Linked DNA regions of Homo sapiens: regions 2, 3, 4, 5, 6 and 7 are each reported to be linked to region 1. The links are microRNA targets in miRTarBase. Many come from high-throughput screens and were not tested one by one. Region 1 holds a microRNA gene; each other region holds the end of a gene's coding sequence.
Evidence for each region. The annotated mature microRNA hsa-miR-6831-5p reads UAGGUAGAGUGUGAGGAGGAGGUC and lies in region 1 at 1,664-1,687, opposite strand. An mRNA with a match to its seed (bases 2 to 7 or 8) in the 3' UTR can be bound and repressed. Matches are read on the target gene's strand: a 7mer-m8 pairs with bases 2 to 8, a 7mer-A1 pairs with bases 2 to 7 and ends in A, and an 8mer does both.

Region 1 (3,094 bases):
AAGTAGCTCTTGCTTGGGGGATGTAGGCATCCTCACCGGCCCTTGGAGCTCCCCACGCCCCACACACGGATGTGCACCAGAGGCTGGCAGTGGATCAGACTGTGGTCCAGGGGATTCACTAGGCTCATGGCATCCTTCTTCAGGATCATCAGCATGTTCTGGCCCTGCCAAGGACAGAGGTCAGCCCAGAGCTCAGATAAAGGTCATTGCCATGAGAAATAGGAAATTCAGGGACAGCTACCTCTGCTGGGCCCTGGGCCCAAACCATTAAAGGGCCCAGCCAACTCACCTCACCCCAGGCACCATCTGGAGGCTGGCTCCGGCTGCGGGTCTGGGCCAGCTGCTGGATACAGTTATTGACTGCAATACTGCTCTTCCCCGGTGCCAGGTCCTCTTCAGGTACCTCTACCCAGCCCAGAGAGCGGACTGCAAAGCACTGACAGGTTGGGGGAAGGGACAGGAATTAATAAGGATGGAGTAGGGTGGCAGGTGCCACAATACATACTCCCTGTCTTCACCCTTGATCACCTCTGTTCAGTCCAATCCCACCCTTGTCTTTCCCTTGGGACCTCCCAATGCCCTCAGGCCCAAGTCACTACCTTAGCCCCTGGCTCCATGCTCTGGATGTAGGATTCCCCACCATACCAGGACAGAGAGTTACTGAAACAGAGCAGAGCTGTTAAGAGGACCACATTTCCTACAGTAGGGACACTGGTGAGGCCTAGACAACTTGATAAGCACAGGATGAGGGGCAAGACCCAGAATATAGCACCAGAAATATAAAACCAGAGCAGGGTAGAGCCCAGGACATATTAACGTAACATAAAGTGTGACTCAGAATTTGAGGGAAAATTCAGGACATAGGACCCAGACACAGGACATAGAATAAAAGTCACAAGGCTAGGTGCAGTGGTGGCTCACGCCTGTAATCCCAACACTTTGGGAGGCTGAGACGGGTGGATCATGAGGTCAGGATATCGAGACCATCCTGGCCAACATGGTGAAACCCCATATCTACTAAAAATACAAACATTAGCTGGGCATGGTGGCATGTGCCTGTAGTTTCAGCTACTCAGGAGGCTGAGGCAGGAGAATGACTTGAACCTGGGAGGCGGAGGTTGCAGTGAGCCAAGATCGTGCCACTGCACTCCAGCCTGGATGACAGAGTGAGACTCCATCTCAAAAAATAAAAAATAAAAGTCACAAAATAGAACAGGGTCCAATATGTGGACCAGAACCCCAAAGTGGGACAAGAGACCCTAGAACAGAGGACTTAATGGCCAAGGTCTAGAACATGATAGGTTAGGACCAAGAATATGAAAAACATGTAGCTACAAACAAGAGCTTAGAACAAGGGATAAAACTCAAAATACTGACAGTTAAGAACCTGGGACAGAGCCAAGAACGTAACAGAACCCAAAACATGTGACAGAATCCAGAACCTGGGCTGGAAAGCAGACCATGGGTCCAGCTGCATTTTTGAACACCATGGAACCCCAAGCCTTTCATTTTGCCTGGGCCACCCGTTACCTCCGGTCCAGTGAACTCTCCAGGCTGGAGAAGGATCTCCCTTTGGGGGGCCGCAGTCCCCAGATCCCCTCCGTTCCCTGTAGAGTGGGAGTTAGTCAGTTTAACAGCAGACCTAGGTCCACACATGGGCTCAGACCTCCTCCTCACACTCTACCTACCGTGCCTGGGTCCTCTGCATCTCCTAGTTCCCAGGTTGGGCGCTGCCACTGGGTGCTACCGCTGGGTACATGCCAGTAGTAAGTACCTGCAGCATCGTGGATCTTCCTCCAGCCAGGAGGCAGGCCAGCCTCCACCTCCAGACTGTGGTCCCCCCACAAGTCATCTACAGGAACACCGGATTAGAGAGGAGGGAGCATATGATTTGTGAGTTCAGAATAACATGCTGTCATAATCCCCTCTCCATCCCCAAAATGGGTCAGTTCTTAGGCTGAAGATCCAGGCTCCTCAATCTTGAAGACATCACATGTAAAGACCGGGTTCATTCGCCCCCTGGTCCCTACACAGAGAGGTATCCCCCACCGTCTTTGAGCCCCAGAGTAGCCTTTCGGATTCCCTCGTCCTCCCTCAGCTCCTGGTCTTCCCACCGGGCCCCTCCGTGCACACCATCGCAGTTGACCAGAATGATGGCCAGCATGTAATCCTTGCCCAGCATAACCCCGGCTGCTCCCCGCCAGCCTCTGCCGGCCCGCACTCTCAGCCCAGCGCGACCTCTGGAGCTACTGCGCCTGCAAGCCCAGCCTCTCTGCGCCGCAGGCTGCGGGGCCAGCTGGCGCCGCACAAATACGGGGCGGGACACGGGGCGGGACACGGGCCGGTCCCGGGGGAGGGCCTGAGCCGCACAGCCCGCCCAGGGGTGGTGCGTGTAAACGGGCGTCTGGATCCCCGAATGGTTGCGTGTTTCCGTGTGTGGGTCCGGGGGAGGCCCACGAACGCCAGCGAAACCGCTGACACCACCGCCCAACTATGAACTCATCAGGCGCCTGAAGACCGACACGCCGAACATGCGCCGCGCGCACTCGCGCACGAGTGAGATCATCGCGCCCCGGTCGTGAGTGCGCTCACACGCAGCCTGAGACTCGACGGGAGGGGGTCACGTGGAAGTATCTGAGAGAGGCGTACTTGGCCACTAGGAAAGCACCTCCCCCTTTCCAAAAATGCTCCGGAAGTGCCTTCGCCCTCCGTAAAGATGGCCGGGGCAGTCGGCACGAGGGAGGCGGGGATGCGCCTGCGCAACAAGTTCGGCGGGGAAGATGGCGGATGACAAGGTGAGTGGCCGTGGGGGTGATCTGCAGCCGGGCGTGGTCTTCACTCTCCTTGACCTTTTTAGTTCCGGGGAGAAGCGACTCTGGAGCGGCTCAGGAGTGAGGATGTCCCTTGTTTCTTCTGCGGCTCCTGTCAACTGCCTCAACAGTGTGGAGTGGTGTGGGGAGAGCATTCGGCGAGGCGGGAGGAGCCGTGGATCCCCCAGATGTCCCCTCCTGGGAACCATCACGAACCCGTTACTAGCACAGACTCAAAAACATTCACCCTTAAACACTCCTCACTTTACCCCATTCCCTAGCTC
Region 2 (3,094 bases), not on the chromosome of region 1:
CTGGTGAATCCTGCCACTTACAGGGTGGTTTCTCCGCCCCCCTCTAGGCGCTACATTCTCAGGGGCTTCTGTCAGGACCCTATTAGAGGGAGTAGATGCACATGCACCAGGGCCTGTGGAGGGATGGGGTAAAGGGACAGGCACCCACAAAACTGAGGGTCGGAGAACGAGAGTTGACAAGGAGGAGAAACAGGACAGGAGCAGGGAGAGGAGAGGAAAAAGAGGAAGACGAGGGGCAGGAGAGGGCTGGCCTGGCGGCACAGAGCAGTGGGGCAGAGCTGACAGGGCAGAAGGAGACACTGAAGGGAGAGACTCCAGGACAGGAGCAGGGGAGGGAGGTAGAGAAATGAGGGAGGGGGCACTCAGAGACAGAAGGGGGCAGTCGAGGAGCAGGGGCAGAGGGGGAAACCGAGTGAGGGAGAGAGGCCAGCAAAGGAGGGCTGGAGAGGGGAGGGGCTAAAGCCCACAGAGGAGATAAGAGAAGCCAGAGCATAGGGTGACATCAAGAGGGGACCAGGTCACAAAGGGAGAGGCCGTGGCGGTTGGCTCTGCTACCTGGCACACCTGAGTCACCCCAGCACTCCCTGGGCTGGTCACTCTGACAAACAGCAGGGCAGTTCTGGTTGGTTGGTTGGTTGTTTTAATAAAAACAACCCTAGGCCAGGTGCGGTGGCTCACGCCTGTAATCCCAGCACTTTGAGAGGCTGAGGCGGGTGGATCACGAGGTCAGGAGATTGAGACCATCCTGTCTAACACACTGAAAGCCCATCTCTACTAAAAATACAAAAAGAAATTAGCCGGGAGTGGTGGCGGGCACCTGTAGTCCCAGCTACTCGGGAGGCTGAAGCAGGAGAATCGCTTGAACCCAGGAGATGGAGGTTGCAGTGAGCCGAGATCGCGCCACTGCACTCCAGCCTGGGTGACAGAGCGAGACTCCATCTCAAAAAAAAAACAAAACAAAAACAAAAACAAAAAAAACAACCCCATAGCATTTACTGTGATCTGATAATCATATAAAAGTGATCAGGCTGGGCCAGTGACTCACACCTGTAAGCTCAGCACTTTGGGAGGCCAAGGCAGGTGGATTGCTTGAGGCCAGGAGTTGGAGACCAGCTTGGGCAACATGGTGAAACCCCGTCTGTAAAAAATTTAAAAATTAGCCAGGCATGGTGGCACACGTCTGCAGTCCAGCTACTCGGGAGGCTGAGGTGGGAGGATCACTTGAGACTGGGAGGTAGAGGCTGCAGTGAGCCAGGGTCACACCACTGCACTCCAGCCTGGGCAACAAAGCAAGCCCTACCTTGAAAAAAGTAAATAAATAAATAAGGCAATCAAAACAGTATGAACAAATATTTTAGAACTGCACTTACAACAAAGGACACCAAAAAAAAAAAAACCCAAAAAACTAAACCTGTATTGCCTTCTCCAAACTTGGCCATGCCCTTGATCATTTCTGGTTGGAGATATTTCATGGCAGAGTCATAGTGTCTCTTCTTCAGCACAATTGGACCTGGTTGTTTTCTTGACCTGGCTTTGGGTGAATCTCTTCTGTATCGGCTACTAAGAGGGTCATATTCTCACCAAAGCCAGCGGCACAGCCCTCTAACCACATACCTATTTGTTACAGGGATGCTGGGGAAGGCCTGCATCCAGGCAGGCTGGGATGAGGGCCCTGGGTCCAGGAGGCCAGAGCCGGCTGCAGATGAGTGGATGTGGGGAAACAGAGTATTAGCCTGCATCCCTAAGCAGGCAGGAAGCCAGACAGACCCCTCCTCTCGGCTTGGGATCAAACTGCCACCCCCCATGGGGACAGGTGGGGTGACTCAACCCCTGATGCCCGCAGAGCCAGAGGCCTGCCCTGCCACTGTCCGCTGCTTCTTCCAAACTGGGGAGTTTAGAGCTTTGGCAGTGAGTCGCTCGACAAATCGGCTCCTGGGGATGAGGACCCAACAGCCAGCCCACGGAGACGGGGCTCTGATGGGGCTCACCTGGGCGCCTCCCTCCACCACCACCCGCAGCTCTGCCATCCTGAGGCCCCTGAGGCCTGTGGTGGAGAGAGCAGAAGGGGGGGCTTGGCCTGGGGTAGAGAGGTAGCACCTCACTCTCATGGGGCTGGGTTTCTCCTCACCAGCCCTGTTTTGGAATCCAACGCACAGTTTCGGAGTCCCAACCCCTCTCCTCCCCTTCCTGAAGCACCAGAGCTGGGTCTTCCAGGCCTCTAGACTCTGCCCCTTCTCCATCGGCTGCCCTGCCCTGGTGGGAGAGGGATAAAAGGGAGGGTGGCCCAGGGCTGCAAAGGTCAGGGGTCAGAAGGCTGAACCCTAGGTGGAAGCAGGGGTCGGCGTCAGCCCCAGGTGGACAGGACCACGCAGTCTCTGGCTAGGCCAACATCCAACCCCCAACCTTAACCCCCTCTGGACCCTTGCTTTCCAGTGTCCCCAGGCATGGGAAAAAACAGACACTGGAGAATAAATAATTTATTGAAATTGGAGGAATAAATAAGATATGTGGGCAGGGTTACAAATACCTATAAAAATCATTAACATTTATATACACAAAAGCGCTGGGGCCCGGGGCGGGGCCGGAAGTCGTGGGGGCGGGGACATGAGGCCGTTGGGCGGGGCCTGATGCCTTGGAGGCGGGGCCTGAGGCCGTCGGGCGGGTCGGGGAGGGGGTTTCCTTTCCGCAGCAGCCGTCCGGGCCCCCAGAGGTAGAGGTAGATGAGCCTATTTACGGCGGGGGAAACCGCCCGAGGCCGCCGCAGATCCAGATCCAGATGTGGATCTGGCCGCCTTTCAGATCCGAGCCCCGCGTCCCGCTGCGCCCTAGGAGCGCGCGGCGGCCCCAGAGCCCTGGCTCGGTGCCCTGAGGGCCCCACCCCCCTGAGCGCGCCCGCGGAGCTGCACCCCTTGCACGATCTTCTCCACCCAGGAGCGGTGCGCAGAGAGGCTGATGTAGACCCCGGGCCTGTTGCGCTCGGCACAGCCCTCGCCCCAGCTGATGATGCCGGCCAGCAGCCAGGCGCCGTCCACCTGGCACATGAGGGGGCCCCCGGAGTCGCCCTGCAGAGAGGAGGCGAGGTTAGGAACCCCCG
Region 3 (3,094 bases), not on the chromosome of region 1:
GATACTGAAGCAGGAAGCATGGGAAAGGGGGGCTCAAGGGTTTGACTGATGAAAAACCCAACCAAAACTCATCAATCTGACTTACTATGCTGTCCTTTGGACTGTTTTGTTCAGTGGCTTCTCTGATTCTGACTTCCTCTTAAATGTATTAGATCCATGTCTTCTAAGCTCAGATCTTTATTTTTTTTCATGCCACTTCAACTTCTTTATGTAATCTCAAACTCTTTCTCAGAGGTATGAAAGAAACTCCCCTCAACTCCCTTGTTTCATAGATGAGAAAACTCACGATAGAAGGAAATTGAATCGTTTGCTCAAGATTAAATACTGGCCAAGTTCAGACCAAGCACCTTGTCAACATGGGCAAAACTTCAAAATTTTCTTCAGAGTCACGCACTGAGAAACAGTTTATGGATAAAGTAAGCTTTATAAACAATTCCCCAAAGACATTGGACTGTGCCTTAAAGAGAAAAATGAGGATCAATGAGGACGGAGACTCTGCACAGGACATTGATTACGCATGCCTGAAGACTGTTATTTGAAATCCTTCTGATGTGTCACTGTTAGGACGACAGTGATCACTACATGCTAATATTTGTTAAATGCCAGGAATTCCTTCAGACACTATTAGAGAAGGGCAAGGAAGATTCTCGAGGGCTAATCAAGCTCTTAGAGAATTCAGTTAGTAGTGACCATTTGCAATACTGCAATTGCAATACTGTGCTCTCCAGTGAGCTGACAAGGCCAGCCAAGGCAAAGTGGAGAGGAAGTGGTGCTTTGTGGCAGAGGACCTAGAATCAGTACCTGGTGTCTCTACCTCCATGGGCACACGGCCAGTCCTAGGCTATCACGAAGAAGCAATGGTACTCAATGTTCCTTAAGAAACAACATCCTTAATGTGAGAAAATAAAAAGCCATTGGAAACCTCTACTTGCTCTGAGCAGGCCATTTTCTAAAAGCAACTTTGGTATATAACTTTGTATAATTAGGTATGTTTTGGGGGGTTGTCTTGCCATTACTTCCTTCAGTCCATTAATATGGATAAAGCATCTCTCACCACACCATCAGCTTAAACTGTTGAATCCTGCCTAATAGCCTGAGCCAAGTTAATGGATGAAGTCCCTGGAGAATTTTTCAGGTGAAGGAGAAGCAGGAGGCTGCTACCCAAGAGAAGACAGAGGTGTTAAAGCTGCTTTTTTGTTTTGTGTTTTTACCTCAATGCAGTATAAAATCAACATTTAAGATACAGATAAAATTCTTTATATAATTAGCTTAGACCGTAATATCCTTCTAATTGTCACTTTTCTATGAAACCGTCTTTAACCATTTATTTGCCTTTATGGTACTTAATCACGTTGGCCCACTCCTTACAAATTTCAGTAATGATTCCAAATCAGTACAGTAAGGAAAAAAATATTTATTTTCTAAAGTCATTACCTTGACAGGCAAAACAAAGCATGTTCTCAATTTCATTTAGAAATACATATTTTAAAAATACATAGACCAATATGGCCTGCCCAAACAGATATTTAACATGGTAAATATAAGGAATAAATTGTTTGAATATAAATATCTATAAAAAAATAAGTACATCAAAATTCAATCCAACCTCTTTCATTAGCCGGTTATATAAAGGAAAATAATTTTACTGCTTTAAAGCGTAACAAACACTTACTTTTCAATATATTTCATAAACAACCCTATACCATTGTGTCTCCAAAAATCAAGGACAGGGAATCTCCTGATTTAATGATCTTTTTTTTCTTATGGATCAGAGCTAGTAGATTACCATGAAAATATTATATCTACTGCTGACACATTAGACCAGACTTCTACGAGGCTAGGATTTAGTATGGGGGATGGAGGAAGGGGCAGCAGGGGTGGGAAGAGTTTGGGGAGGCAATAATTAAATGTGGGAAATACTTCTGCCAGAGTGCAATATAGGTGAGGTAGACTCATATTCATGAAACATATCCTGATTTATGGTAGTAACAGTTTCATTCAGTTTTGCATTTTACAAATTTAAACAAAAGTCTTTCTTTTTTTTTTCTTTACTTGCATGTTTGTCTTTTGAGTGTGTTTTCAATTTGTGCATTCCTTAGAAAATCTTTGTGTGGACTTTGGAGTTTCTCCCTGAAATGTGCCAGGCGCCTGAGTCAGACACAAACACTCCCTTAGGACCTTCGTCAGAAACTCCACCCCTGTGTGGAATCTCCTTCCTCTCTCTCTCTCCGGAGGATGCCACCCGAATTCGAATGTGACTGTGTGTTTCTGCTGAGAGGTCCATTGTCATCCCCAGATGAAAGAAGAGACCAAAGCAGTTACCACTGATGGAAGCCAGTGAAGATGGTTGGGGGAACTCCTTAACCTTTCTTGGAATGTTTTGAACGAGGACGCTGGTCCTTTGCCAGTCAGGAACCAGCAGAGGATGCTCCTGCTCTGATCCCAGCCAGGGTGGAGAGTGCAGAGTCGGCCACAGGGCTCTCCGTGGAGGCTATGGCTTCAGACAGGCCCCGAAGGTCTGTCACCAATGTGCTCGGTTGTGGGTCACATAACGCTCTCTGGAGGGCTTGCCTTTCAGCTTGGGATCATGAAAAGATGATTTGACGCTGTTTCTCATGGTCTCCGACCTAATAAAGCAAGATAAGAGAAAACAAATGTTATTTTAAAAAAATCACCCTTTGGCAAAAGAAACATGTAAAATTAGAATCTGGCACAAACAAAACCTGAATCTGGTTGTGAACTTTCACCACCCGCCGCAACTCTTTGATAAAACCTCAAGTGATATCTATTACCATTGTAAAAATAAAGCCTGCCCCTATGCTTAGAATGGGAGCGAGGGGTCATATGGTCAAGTCTAAGGGGAAGTGGGCAGTAAATACAGGTTTTAAATAAACTAGAGTTGTTCTGGTTTCTTCCGTAGCCCCATCCCAACCTTCATCACTATGTGACCCTGCCTTGAGGAACTCAGCATAGGTTTTGAATAGTTATGGCCATCTTAATAAATTGACGGTGACTTAGTTGAAAAGAGAGAAAAAGAAAAGAAGCATACAGTAGGCCCAGAGCAAATACTTTATGGCAATTATTTTTAAAAAGA
Region 4 (3,000 bases), not on the chromosome of region 1:
CTTTTGCTCTGTGTATCAGGTACTATTTGTTTTCCCTCATCATGAATTTGAGCCGTGATGCTTATGAGATTCGCCTACTGATGGAGCAAGAGTCTTCTGCTTGTAGCCGGCGACTGAAAGGTTCTGGAGGAGGAGTCCCAGGAGGAAGTGAAACTGGGGGACTTGGGGGACCAGGGACTCCAGGAGGAGGTCTGCCCCAACTGGCTCTGAAACTTCGGCTGCAAGTCCTGCTCCTGGCTCGAGTCCTTAGAGGTCATCCCCCACTTCTGCTAGACGTGGTCAGAAATGCCTGTGATCTCTTCATTCCTCTGGACAAACTAGGCCTCTGGCGCTGTGGCCCTGGGATTGTGGGGCTTTGTGGCCTCGTGTCCTCCATCCTGTCTATTCTCACCCTAATCTATCCCTGGCTACGACTCAAGCCCTGACCTTCCGGTACAGGATAAGGAGGGGACCTGAATTGGTGAGATGGAATCTTAGATCGTCCCCCATGTGCCAGCCTCATTCGAATTCTACTCTTTGGTTAAAGTTAGAAATTCAGAGATTTAGGGGTGGAGGAAGAGCTTTGGGGAAGATGAGGTAAGGAAAGATGACTCGTGAAGTTAATAGGATGTCTCTAATTTCTAGATGTGCCTGAGCTTCTGTTCTTTTCCTCTTTCTTTGTGTCTCTCTTGAATATATTTACTTTGTGTCTCTTAACTCTGTTTAAGGTTCTGTGTCTATGCATCTCTCTCTTTCTTTTTTCAACCTTCTCATTCTCCTATCCAGGGATTTAATCAGCAGAATTACTTTTTGATAGGGGAGGTATAAGGTTTGGCCTGTAAGGTTCTAACTGCCTTCTTTTTTCTCACAGAGGTGGCTTATGGCAGATTTTTCCTCCTTCAAACTCCAAACATAATTTTTAAGACTATGTGCCAGTGGACTCTTCCCTTATATCTCTGCACCACAAGTTGTTGGATGTTTCCTCTTCCTCCCTTATGTCTACCTCACCAACCTCGCTCATCATTTGGCCCTTATCCTTCCTTGTACACCTACCTTCAGATTTCTGCTTACACTTTGATTTCAGAGCTTTATTCCCCAGTCTGTTCTTACTCCTTTGTCGCTTATCCAGAATGATGCTATGTGTAGCATCTTGCTGTAAATCCTGTACAATGATTCTGTGTAAATAGCTGTGGCCTATGCCAATAATGAAGAGCAAGCCTTTCAGGTAAGCAAATTAAAGTTCAGTTTGCTCATCGACATTTGGTCTGGTCCCTCATTTTTTGGTAATTTGAGGCCCCTATTCCTGTCACTGTGGTTTGGGTTTTTCTCGGGATTAGCCACTAACATCACCCACATTATTTTTCTTGAGCACCTACAGTATGTAAAGCAACATACTTAGTGGGCATCCAAAAATCTAAGAAGCTCCACACTCCCAACTTTAAGAAGTTTATAACCTAGCTGAGGAGTTGGGGTGGCAGAGGAGTGGTCTAATACTAAAGTTATTGTCCTGGCTCCACAAAGCACATCTCATACCAGTTCAGATATAATCCCTCTAAGAAGCAGAATGCCATATGACAGCATAGGCTAAGAGCCAAGGACAGAACCAAGTGGAGTGGGGCTGGTAAGGATTTGGAGCTGTGTCTTCACAAGTTGAGACTCCCCTGGGTGGGTAGGGAAATGATACCACTGCTATCAGCTCTTTCATTTTCCATATTCCAGGTTGAGATAAATAAGGTTAGGAAGTGAATCTATCGGCCAGGCGTGGTGGCTCACGCCGGTAATCCCAGCACTTTGGGAGGCCGAGGCAGGTGGATCTCTTAAGGTCAGGAGTTCAAGACCAGCCTGGCCAACATGGTGAAACCCTGCCTCTACTAAAAATAAAAAATTAGCCAGGCATGGTGGCATGTGCCTGTAGTCCCAGCTACCTGGGAGGCTGAGGCATGAGAAATGCTTGAACGTGGGAGACAGAGGTTGCAGTGAGCCAAGATTGTGCCACTGCACTCCAGCCTGGGTGACAGAGTGAGACTCTGCCTTAAAAAAGAAAAAAAAAAATCTGAATCTATCTCCTATCTCCCAGCTGGGTGCAGTGGCTCACTTTGGGAGGCTGAGGTGGGAGGATTCCTTGAGTTCAGGAGTTCAAGACCAGCCTGGGTAACATAGTGAAACCCTGTCTGTATTCTCAATATAAATAATTTGTCTAAAACTTTTAAACAAAAGTTTAAGATTCTTTTCTTATAAAAAAGAATCCATCTCCCACTCCTGTTCCAAATTTGAGGAAAGCATTATTGACCTGGCAACAATAAACAGTAGAAAAAAAGAAATAGCAGAAATGGGCAAAAAAATATGTTCTCTGGATATAGAGATGAGGCCTCCAGGGGGCAGCACCAAGGCAGAGAAATAGACTAAGATCGCTCAGTGTTTTCCTTGGTCTGGGGCTCCCCACAGTTCCCCACCATCACTCCTCCCATTCCTTCCAACTTTATTTTTAGCTGCCATTGGGAGGGGGCAGGATGGGAGGGAAAGTGAAGAAAACAGAAAAGGAGAGGGACAGAGGCCAGAGGACTTCTCATACTGGACAGAAACCGATCAGGCATGGAACTCCCCTTCGTCACTCACCTGTTCTTGCCCCTGGTGTTCCTGACAGGTGAGGGAAGTTAACTTCTTGGTTTCTGGTGGGGATGGAAGATACATAGATTGTTTGGAATTGGGACCATTATAGTTAAAATTCTTTGGGATTTAGGTTAGGAAGCGAACACTGGTTGTACATTTCTTGTATGTGTGTCTGTGTCCTTGTGCATTTTTATGCCCTCACATATGACTGTTTGAATATTGAGACTGGCAGGGGCTAAAGCTGCCTAGGACCTTGTGTAAGATTTGTATCTAATAATTATATAATATATAATGTATAATTATATATTATATATAATATACATATAATATATAACAATTATATATTATATATAATATACATATAATATATAACATAATTATATATTATATATAATATACATATAATATGTA
Region 5 (3,094 bases), not on the chromosome of region 1:
AGGGGAGTTCTAGGTAAGAGGTATGAGAGTGGTTCACTATTTGAAGCTGTGAATGTGCACGAGGTCTTCCAGGGTAAGAGAGGATAGGGTGAGAAGCAGAGGGCCTCTGACTGATAGACAGAGGCACCTTGAGAGACCCAGCTTCAAAGGATGGGCAGGACTTCCCTGGGCAGGCCACATACTTGGGGCTGTCTGTGGCTGGGATGATTCGTTTATTCGCTTACTCAAAAACTATTGAAGACCAATTCTGTGCCAGGTATATTGTGGGTGCTGGGGATGCAGCCCTGATGTTCAGGTCCACAGCCCTGGGGTCTGTGGGACAGTGGGGTCCTGTCCCTGTCCAGTGGTGGTTGCAGTACCTCCCTGGGGTCCCTGAGCTGGCCTGCTCTTCCCACAGCTGCGCATGGAGTACCTCTCCCTGATGCATGCTATAGTCCGCACCACACCCTACCTGCAGCACCGCCACCGGCTACCCGACCTGCAGGCCATACTGCGACGCATCCTGAATGAGGAGGAGACCTCACCCCAGTGCCAGATGGACCGCATGATTGTCCGAGAGATGTGCAAGGAATTCCTGGTGCTGGGGGAGGCTCCCAGCTAGCACCTTGCTGTCCTCCCTTCCCTGCAGCTCCAGTCAGTGTGCAGGGGACTCAGGGGCTTGGCCCTAAGAATGTTTTGCACTGACAGTGGGAGGGGATAAGGTGGCAGAAGGAACCTGAGCAGGACCCCCACCTGAAGTAGAACTTAAGAGAGGGGCCAAGTGTAGGATTGGGGACCATGGTCTGGGAGCTGTTCTGGGGCAGGGGGAATATGCAAGCTAAAGCCCCTCTATACCCTGGTAGGCTTCCTCTTCAGCATGCCCCCCTCTTCACCCCACACCCATGTGTACACTCAGAGTCCTGCTGCCGCTCCAGGCTGGACCAGACCCCCATCCCCACCCCTCCTGGTCTGTATCCTGGGCCTCAGCAAGCCATGCCCCTGGGGTGAGGGGAGGCATCTCCCACCAGCTCTATTCTTTGCCTTAGCTTTGCAGTGAGTGCTGCTCATGTCCTCCCCTCCACCCGCACATGGGGGTCGCTGCCCTTCACTCCTACCCCCAGAGGCCTTGGCCAAGCTGCTGCTTTGAAAGCGGGATCTTGGAGACAGGCCATCCATCCTGGAGCCTCATGGAACAGGATGATGGCACTGAGAAAGCCAATGACCGAATCTCTTTTCTCTGTAAAAATGTAGACTGAAAAGCCATGTGTATTTTCCTATGTGCTGTAGCTCTCCTTTGGAAATAAATCACAGGCATCTGGAAACAGGCTTCCCTGTATGATCTTGGGAGACAGTGGGAGAGGATGGGCAGAAGTACTGGGGCCTCAGGACCCCATCACTGCAGCTTGCACTGACTTCTCCAGCCTGAGGAGGTGATGGACCCTGACAGGCCTGGCCTTCAAGGCCCTTTGAGCCCTGTTCTAGCCTCTCTTCCCTGAGCTCCACTTTTCCTGAGCCCCAGCCATAGCCAAGTGCCCCTCAGCAGCCCATTCGCAGGTGTCTGCATCTCCAGGCTTCACTTACACACTTACATCTTTCTTTTTCTCCTTTTTTTTTTTTTTGAGACAGTCTCACTCTGTTACCCAGGCTCACTGTAGCCTTGACCTCCCAGGCTCAAGTGATCCTCCTGCCTCAGCCTCCTGAGTAGCTGAAACTACAGTAGCCACCATGCCCAGCTAATTTAATTTTTTTTTTTTTTTTTGGTAGAGACAGGGTCCTACTATGTTGCTCAAGCAGGTCTCAAACACCTCAGTTCCGGTGATCCTCCTGCCTTGGCCTCCCAAAGTACGGGGATTATAGGCGTGACCCATCGCACCGGCCCGCTTACATCTTTCACTTACATCTTTTGCTTTGCTTTGAATACCGCTACTCTCTCCCCTGTTGAAACCCTATTGTCCTTCATAGTTGTTCTCAAATGAAGCAGGCCCCTACCTACCCCCAGCCCTGGCCTCTGAATGCTTGGGCCTGTCCAGCCCTATTTTCTTCCCCCATTTGTCCTTGTTTCCAGCAAGATCACCTCATCTTGCAACCTCAGCAGAGATCTGGTAATCATGGTAGGGCAGAAGGAGGGTCTTAACAAGCATGGGGTTACGTTTCCATTAGTGTTTTAGAGGAACTAAGGGCCAAAATTTGGCAAAAACTTCACTCTTGCAGACTCTCAAGTTAGCAAAGAAGTTCTCACCATAAGTTTGGGAGCAGAGTCAGAAACCCACAGGCAGACACCAGTCAGAAGTGTTGTTTCTGTTTTCTAGATTGAGTCTCACTATCTTTTCAAGGCTGATGTCCAACTCCTGTGCTCAAGCAGTCCTCCCACTTCAGCTTCCCGAGTAGCTGGGACTACAGGCACACACCACTATATAGGCTTCACACACAAGTGGTTTTCATCAGTTCCCTTTATTTTTTACCCAAACTCTTCATTCATCAGATGTTTCCACACATCAGCAATCACTGACACTGACTTCTGGTCATGACTTTTTCTTTCTTATTGGGGTGCTGAAAACAGAGGGCAGTTATCCTCCCAAAAAGAAGGTAAAGCAGCACAGGGAGGCAAGGGCTAGGGATGGGGCCCCCCAGCAAGAGGCTCTCAGAAGTTGAAGCAGCAACATTCCATAGGAAACCCATGGGAGGAAAGTATGGGGTCCTGGTGGGGGATGCCCTGCTCACCGCTTACTGTCAGAAGGCCAGGTGCACAAACTCACTGGGACCTGAGGAGGGGTTGACAGTGTTTGGCCCCCAGTAAAGCTCTGTGGGACACAACCTGGTTACTAACTTTTTTTTTTTTTCTTTTTGAGACGGAGTTTTGCTCTTGTCACCCAGGCTGGAATGCAATGGTGTGATCTCGGCTCACTGCAACCTCTACCTCCCAGGTTCAAGCGATGATTCCTCTGCCTCAGCTTCCCGAATAGCTGGGATTACAGGTGCCCACCACCACATCCAGCTAATTTTTGTATTTTTAGTAGAGACGGGGTTTCACCATGTTGGTCAGGCTGGTCTCGAACTCCTGATCTCAGACGATCCACCTGTCTCAGGCTCCCAAAGTGCTGGGATTACAGGTGTG
Region 6 (3,094 bases), not on the chromosome of region 1:
ACAGAATAGAGGATTATTTCGAGGTTTTAATGAAATAATATGTGTGAAAACACTTGTAAACTAGAAACTGCTGTACAATAATCATTACTTTCCAAGATGTCATTTCCTTTTTCTGTCTTCAGAAACGATCTTCAAGACACAGAAATAAGTCCAAGACAGAATCGCCGCACAAGAGCCGCTGAAAGTGCTGAGATTGAACCAAGAAACAAGCGTAATAGGAATTAATGTGGGCTTTTGCTGACTTTTCAAATGCATTGATTAGAATACCGTACTTTTGGTTGCCACAGATAGATTTTCTATTTATAAATGCCCAAGGAAAGATGCTAAATTCTAAATATTACGGTTAGCTGATATTCATTCTTTTCTGCTTTTCCAGAGGGGAAAAATGTTACAAAATATCCTTACTTGGTCAGTTGCCTCCTGCCTCTAAAACATCTCTCTCTAAAAATACTGACATTTCACACAGGTACCAGCTTTGCAGAGGAGGTAGACTCTTTGGCACTTTGGCACAGGGATTTGGTTTGGTTTGGTTTGGTTTGATAATTAAATTTCAGAATGTCCTTAGGCCATTCTCCTTCTCTTCCATGGAGAATCCAGCCTCACAAAAGGATTCTTTCAACTTCTTTATTGCAAGAAACAGTTGAGTTAAATGTTTGTTTTTGGAAAGGCGGGATGTCAGTTCACATCCTTGGTGTGTGTAAGTACCGATGCACGCCACCACCATGCCTGTGTTACAGCAGCTCCATGATGGTTGTTGCCCGAGGTTAATGTAGTTGTTTGTTAGACCTGTGTCTTACACATTTCTCAGAGTAGGATATTAGTATTATAATTTAAAGCTACGACAGTCACAAAGTCACAATAACTTAGAAACATTGCGCATATTCTTCTGAAATAGCACTTAAAAATGATTAGTGTCAGTATTTTTTCACTTGGGTCAATCAAATCTGTAACACTGAATCCAAGCTATTAAACAAAAAGTATGCAATGAATGAATTTTGTAAATGAATAGAGAGTATCAGTTTACAATAATGTTCTTAAAACAGTATCCTCTGGATAGTTGAGTATGGGTTAGAAATCATTGAAATGGATTGGTCAGAAATTGCTATCTGTGTAAAATGTCTACCAGTAGCCAGATGCTTCCAGAGTTCTTAATGCCTCTCTGGCATTTCAGAGCCAGCATCCCCCAACTCCCACCCCTCTGCCATCACCCAACCCAAACACATCAGCTTTCAAATGAGATGATAGTAAATGCGGCAATGTTAAGACAAGAAATTTATGATTTGCCAGATTCAACATTTATGACCTCCCCTTCCAAAGACTGTCTCCGTTGACCTTGTCTTTTTGGTATGCCTTGGGGTTTCTGATAATGTGTGGAGTCTCATTATGGCTGAGAGTTTAGTGTTTTCACAGTGAAGTGCAGACATTTGATTTCTTTATGAGTTCCCTGTGTTAGAAATGGCTATAGAAAAATTTGTCATAATAATTTCATTTGCATGAAATCCTGAGGGGTGCATTAAGGAAACTAAAAGCACCACTTACCAAATCTATCGGCAGAACTGATGTGAGGTAAGTGAGCATGTCAAACAAAATAGGAGCTCACATGGATATATTTATGTCACTGAGTTGTCAGAAATTATGTCAAAATGAAAACTGTTTGTTTCATGACAAATTATATAGTCTATAAATTAAACTGGAAGTAATTATTACTTTAATTGCAGCAAAAGGAGTTTGTGAGGGAGCGGTGAGACCCAAGATTGGGAAAGTAGGCACATGAGTTCATTCAGCAAATATTTGGTTATCTATGTCTGTCACTGTGCTGACACTGGGAATACAAAGGTGGCCAAAGATCATCTAGAACAATGGTTCCCAGTGGGGTGGGCAGAAAGATTTTGCCCCCCAGGAGACAGCTGGCAATGTGTGGAGACACTTTTGGAGGTGGAGGGTGGTGAGGGGTACTACCAGTATCAATGGGTGGAGGCCAGGGATGAGGCTAAACACCCAACCCTCATGGATTAGTTTGCCAGGGCTGCCGTCACAAGATACTGCAGACGGGGAAGCTTACACAACAGAAATGTGTATTCTCAGAATTCTGGAGGCTGGAAGTCCAAGATCAGTAGGGTTTCTTCTTCGGCCTCTCTCCTTGGCTTCCACTCATGGTGTCCTTGCATGGTCTTTTCTCTGTGTGCACATGACTGTGCAGGACTGGTGTCCCGATTTCTTGTAGGGACAGCAGTCATTGGATCAGGGCCCATGCGTATGGCCTCATTTTACTTCAGTTACCTCTTTTTTAGATAGAGGGCCCTATCTCTAAATACTGTCACATTCTGAGATACCGGCAGTTAAGACTTCCAACATATTTAGTGGTAGGGGTTAAGGGGCACGCTTTAGACTACAACACTCCACAGTAAAGAATTATCCAGTCTAACATGTCAGTTGTGCCAAGACTGAGAAACCTGTAATGTAAAGGAACTCCCAAGTCTACCTGAAAAGTAAGGTCTAAAGAGCATTTATTGAGCACTATCTGTTAGCACTTAGCATATGTTTAATATTCATACATTGAAAGAAATGTATGTTCATATCCATCTGACAAAGATTAAGGAACTTAGAGTAAGTAATAGATCCAAAATTGAAACTGATAAACTTCTGGTTCTAAAATTCACCTTTTAGTGAAAATACAGTTTCTCACCAAACTTACAGTAATTCAGAGTTATTAACTCTTTCTACCTCCTCACTCCCCTCAAAGTTATAACATCTCCCATCAACATCAGCTCAGAATGGCAGTGATGCTTATGGTTTGTGGGGGTGCAGGTGAGCTGCTGGATGCACTTTAGATGGCCTAGTATGCCAGGCCGTCCTTTCATCCTCTACTCTCGTCTTTCTTTTTCGACCTCATGTTGAGGATTACTGGTCTAGTTGAAAAAAGAATTCATACACATAAGACCATGTATATAATAGAGGGAGGTATGCCTTTAAAAACAAAATTACATGGTAAAGACTGATGTGTCAACAGGGATAGACAACATAGAGAAGGCTAGAACTGTTTCTGGAAAAAAACCCAAAAACAATGGATTTCAAACTTCTTAGCATCCGATAA
Region 7 (3,094 bases), not on the chromosome of region 1:
AATCTAAGAGGACTTAGAAGAGGACTGAGGAGTGGGGAGAAGACAGGAGAGTGTGAAATACATGGGGGCTCCCATATGTTGGGACAGAACATGGTCCTCTCAGGAATTTCATGGCTCTAACTGCGTTTCAGCCTAGCTTATCTTACCAGCATTTATTTCAACATTAGGATCTGGGACTTGACTTGCCAATTCTTCATGACACAGCTGTGGTACTACTTACTCAGCTAGGAATAACAAAAGGTGTAGACTTTTTCTTTTTTCCTTTTTTCAGACAGGGTCTCGCTCTGTTGCCCAGGCTGGAGTGCAGTAATGTGATCATAGCTCACTGCAGCCTCCATATCCCAGGCTCAAGTGATCCTCCTGACTCAGCCTCTCCAGTAGCTGAGATTACAGGCACACAGCGCCACACCTGGCTAATTTTTTTGGGTTTTAGTAGAGATGAGGTCTTGCTGTGTTGCCCAGGCTGGTCTTGAACTCCTAAACTCAAGCAATCCTCCTGCCTTGGCATCCCAAAATGTTGGGATTACAGGCATGAGCCACTGCTCCTGGCCAATAAAGACTTCTGATTGATGTAATGTTATTCAGTCATATAAAGATGAAATGTAAATAAAATGGTTAAAGTGTCCTCTCAGTTGCAGAATAGACCTCAGTTGCTAGAAATACATAGCTTTTTAAAAATCTTTATTTATTTAGTTTTTTTGGGATGAAGTTTTGCTCTTGTTGCCCAGGCTGGAGTGCAGTGGTGTGATCTCGGCTCACTGCAACTTCCTTCTCCTGGGTTCGTGCAATTCTCCTGCCTCAGCCTCCCGAGTAGCTGGGATTACAGGTGCCCACCACGCCTGGCTAATTTTTGTGTTTTTAGTAGAGATGGGGTTTCACCATGTTGTCCAGGCTAGTCTCTAACTCCTGACCTCAGGTGATCCACTTGCCTTGGCCTCCCAGAGTGCTGGGATTACAGGCGTTGAGCCACTGTGTCCAGCCGACAATTCATTTTTATTAAAAAAAATAATAGAGATGGGGTCTCACTATGTTGACCAGGCTGATCTTGAACTCCTGGCCTCAAGCGATTCTCCTGCCTTGGCTTCCCAAAGTGCTGGGATTACAGGTGTGAGCCACTACATCTGGCCTTGAATCCTTTTTTATCTAAGATTTTCAGGCATTGTCAAATTGTGTAAGGTAAATTTCTACTTGTTCTCTAGTATCCATTCTCCCCATTTTTCCTTAATAAAAACCCCAAATGGTTCCCATTTCCTCCTCCATTTCCCAGCTTCCTTATGGGTGGGTGTGGCCATGTGACTTGACCTGTGGACTATGTAAACTGATGTGTGCAACATCCAGCTTTTCTTCCCTTCTTTTAAATAGGGAAGTTGCTTGCTCTCCATACTTTCCCCCTTTTTACCCTTGCTGGAAAAGGATGACAACTTGGGCAGCCACCTTAGACCTACAGATGGCCATGGAATGTTCCACCAGCTGGATCCTTGGAGCAGAGCCACCTACTCACTTCTATCTTATTTAAGCCAATGAATTTTGGAGAAATTAATTTTCCTGCCATTTTTTCATATACTGACTGCTAACTCCAAATAAGAGAAATGACATCTGGTCTCAATATAAAAAACAGTAGTGAGGCGGGGCATGGTGGCTCACACTTGTAATCCCAGAACTTTAGGAGACCGAGGTGGGTGGACAACATGGTGAGAACTTGTCTCTACTAAAAATACAAAAATTAGCCAGGGGTGGTGGTGCATACCTGTTATCCTAGCTACTCAGGAAGCTGAGGCATGAGAATTGCTTGAATCCAGGAGGTGGAATTTGCAGTGAGCCGAGATTGCACCACTGTACTTCAGCCTGGGTGACAGAGCAAGACCCTGTCTCAAAAAAAAAAAAAAAAAAAAAAAAAGAAACAACAGTAGTGGGAGAAACTTGAATATAGCAGGCTTCCAATTTTATATATATGTGGGTCACAGATACATACCATATACATACTATACAAAAAAAAAAACTTTTTATAAGCTGAATACATTATGAACATAAGTCTTGAATAGTTTAAAAAAGTTAACTGTTAAGAGCTTTGAAAAGGGTGAGGCTGGCCGCGGCGGCTCACGCCTGTATTCCCAGCACTTTGGGAGGCTGAGGCGGATGGATCACCTGAGGTCAGGAGTTCGAGACCAGCCTGGCCAACATGGTGAAACCCCATCTCTACTAAAAATACAAAACTTAGCTGGGCATAGTGGCGCATGCCTGTAATCCCAGCTACTGGGGGGCTGAGGCAGGAGGATTGCTTGAACCTGGGAGGTAGAGGTTACAGTGAGCCAAGATCGTGCCACTGCACTCCAACCTGGGCAACAGAGCAGGGCTCAGTCTCAGAAAAAAAAAAAAAGAAAAAAGAAAAAAAGGGTAAGAATGGGAGCTTTATTTATGCGTTATATGTTTAATACAAATTCAATGTATTTTGTTGTGTTCAATACAGTTAATATCTGGAGTGAACAAGGTCGGTCTCATACATTTATCTTTCCTTTCTTCTTCCTCACGTTGTACATAAGGGAAGGAGGCTTCTTGGTTTTATAGGCCACACTTTTCTTGATGCGCTGTCCTTTGATGTTAACAATATATGGCAAGAGAGGGGGCCGGACGGTCAAAACTGTTCCTTCAGGTGTATAGCCTCGGAGATGCAGTCTGTCCTTAAAATTAGGTGTTACTGAAACCCAACCTATGCAGGCATGTGACACAACACAAAAGGCTGTTAGCAATCATCTTATTAAAAATACCAAACCAAAGCTGAAAATGGACTATCAGAGAACGCTGTCACTCTCTTTCACTCTCTTATTATTTTATTATTTTTTAAGAAACTGCGTCTTGCTATGTTACCCAGGCTGAACTCAAGTTCCTGGGCTCAAGCGATCGTACTGCCTCGGCGTCCCGAGAAGCTGGGGGCACAGGTGGACACACCTTAGTTTTAAAAAAGCATACAATGCGTTTGTGCAAAGTACAAATTTATTTTCAGAATAGGTTGTATTTTATGAATAAACTAGTATGTACACCTTAAAATAATCAGCTTTCATCAGTTAAGGCACTTTTCTATAAAAAAAATTGTCGG

Region 2: miRTarBase lists PRSS22 as a target of hsa-miR-6831-5p. Seed matches in the 3' UTR shown: 7mer-m8 at 2,715-2,721 and 7mer-m8 at 2,709-2,715.
Region 3: the mRNA of EDN1 is a reported target of hsa-miR-6831-5p. Seed matches in the 3' UTR shown: 7mer-m8 at 1,945-1,951.
Region 4: the mRNA of PEX11B is a reported target of hsa-miR-6831-5p. Seed matches in the 3' UTR shown: 7mer-m8 at 978-984.
Region 5: the mRNA of NCKIPSD is a reported target of hsa-miR-6831-5p. The part of its 3' UTR that is shown has no 7-base or 8-base seed match.
Region 6: the mRNA of RAD18 is a reported target of hsa-miR-6831-5p. Seed matches in the 3' UTR shown: 7mer-m8 at 2,478-2,484 and 7mer-m8 at 2,720-2,726.
Region 7: miRTarBase lists NOA1 as a target of hsa-miR-6831-5p. The part of its 3' UTR that is shown has no 7-base or 8-base seed match.

The regions. Positions count from the first base shown.
Region 1 is chr5:140,562,064-140,565,157 of GRCh38, forward strand. It overlaps MIR6831 (microRNA 6831), which reads right to left and starts at 1,688; the gene lies at 1,608-1,688. APBB3 (amyloid beta precursor protein binding family B member 3) reads right to left here and starts at 2,535. Exons shown (of 13, transcript NM_133173.3): 1 at 2,134-2,535; 2 at 1,689-1,852; 3 at 1,531-1,607; 4 at 600-660; 5 at 290-436; 6 at 37-164. The coding sequence starts at 2,182. SLC35A4 (solute carrier family 35 member A4) reads left to right here and starts at 2,765. Exons shown (of 3, transcript NM_080670.4): 1 at 2,765-2,795. It overlaps LOC131768270 (SLC35A4 upstream open reading frame protein), which reads left to right and starts at 2,765. Exons shown (of 3, transcript NM_001394034.2): 1 at 2,765-2,795. The coding sequence starts at 2,781. RefSeq lists enhancers at 1,693-1,752, 2,361-2,967, 2,723-2,842 and a silencer at 2,223-2,402.
Region 2 is chr16:2,850,268-2,853,361 of GRCh38, forward strand. It overlaps PRSS22 (serine protease 22), which reads right to left. Exons shown (of 6, transcript NM_022119.4): 6 at 2,463-3,062. The coding sequence ends at 2,826. Among named protein-coding and RNA genes, the nearest start is that of PRSS22, 6.4 kb to the right of the region's middle. RefSeq lists an enhancer at 1,959-2,458.
Region 3 is chr6:12,295,495-12,298,588 of GRCh38, reverse strand. EDN1 (endothelin 1) reads right to left here. Exons shown (of 5, transcript NM_001955.5): 5 at 1,395-2,627. The coding sequence ends at 2,522. Among named protein-coding and RNA genes, the nearest start is that of EDN1, 6.7 kb to the right of the region's middle.
Region 4 is chr1:145,909,586-145,912,585 of GRCh38, reverse strand. PEX11B (peroxisomal biogenesis factor 11 beta) reads left to right here. Exons shown (of 4, transcript NM_003846.3): 4 at 20-1,236. The coding sequence ends at 425. It overlaps ITGA10 (integrin subunit alpha 10), which reads left to right and starts at 2,536. Exons shown (of 30, transcript NM_003637.5): 1 at 2,536-2,623. The coding sequence starts at 2,572.
Region 5 is chr3:48,672,051-48,675,144 of GRCh38, reverse strand. NCKIPSD (NCK interacting protein with SH3 domain) reads left to right here. Exons shown (of 13, transcript NM_016453.4): 13 at 398-1,301. The coding sequence ends at 601. Among named protein-coding and RNA genes, the nearest start is that of LINC02585, 9.8 kb to the right of the region's middle.
Region 6 is chr3:8,878,488-8,881,581 of GRCh38, reverse strand. RAD18 (RAD18 E3 ubiquitin protein ligase) reads left to right here. Exons shown (of 13, transcript NM_020165.4): 13 at 123-3,094. The coding sequence ends at 225. Among named protein-coding and RNA genes, the nearest start is that of RAD18, 83 kb to the left of the region's middle.
Region 7 is chr4:56,960,955-56,964,048 of GRCh38, forward strand. NOA1 (nitric oxide associated 1) reads right to left here. Exons shown (of 7, transcript NM_032313.4): 7 at 2,396-2,707. The coding sequence ends at 2,496. Among named protein-coding and RNA genes, the nearest start is that of NOA1, 15 kb to the right of the region's middle.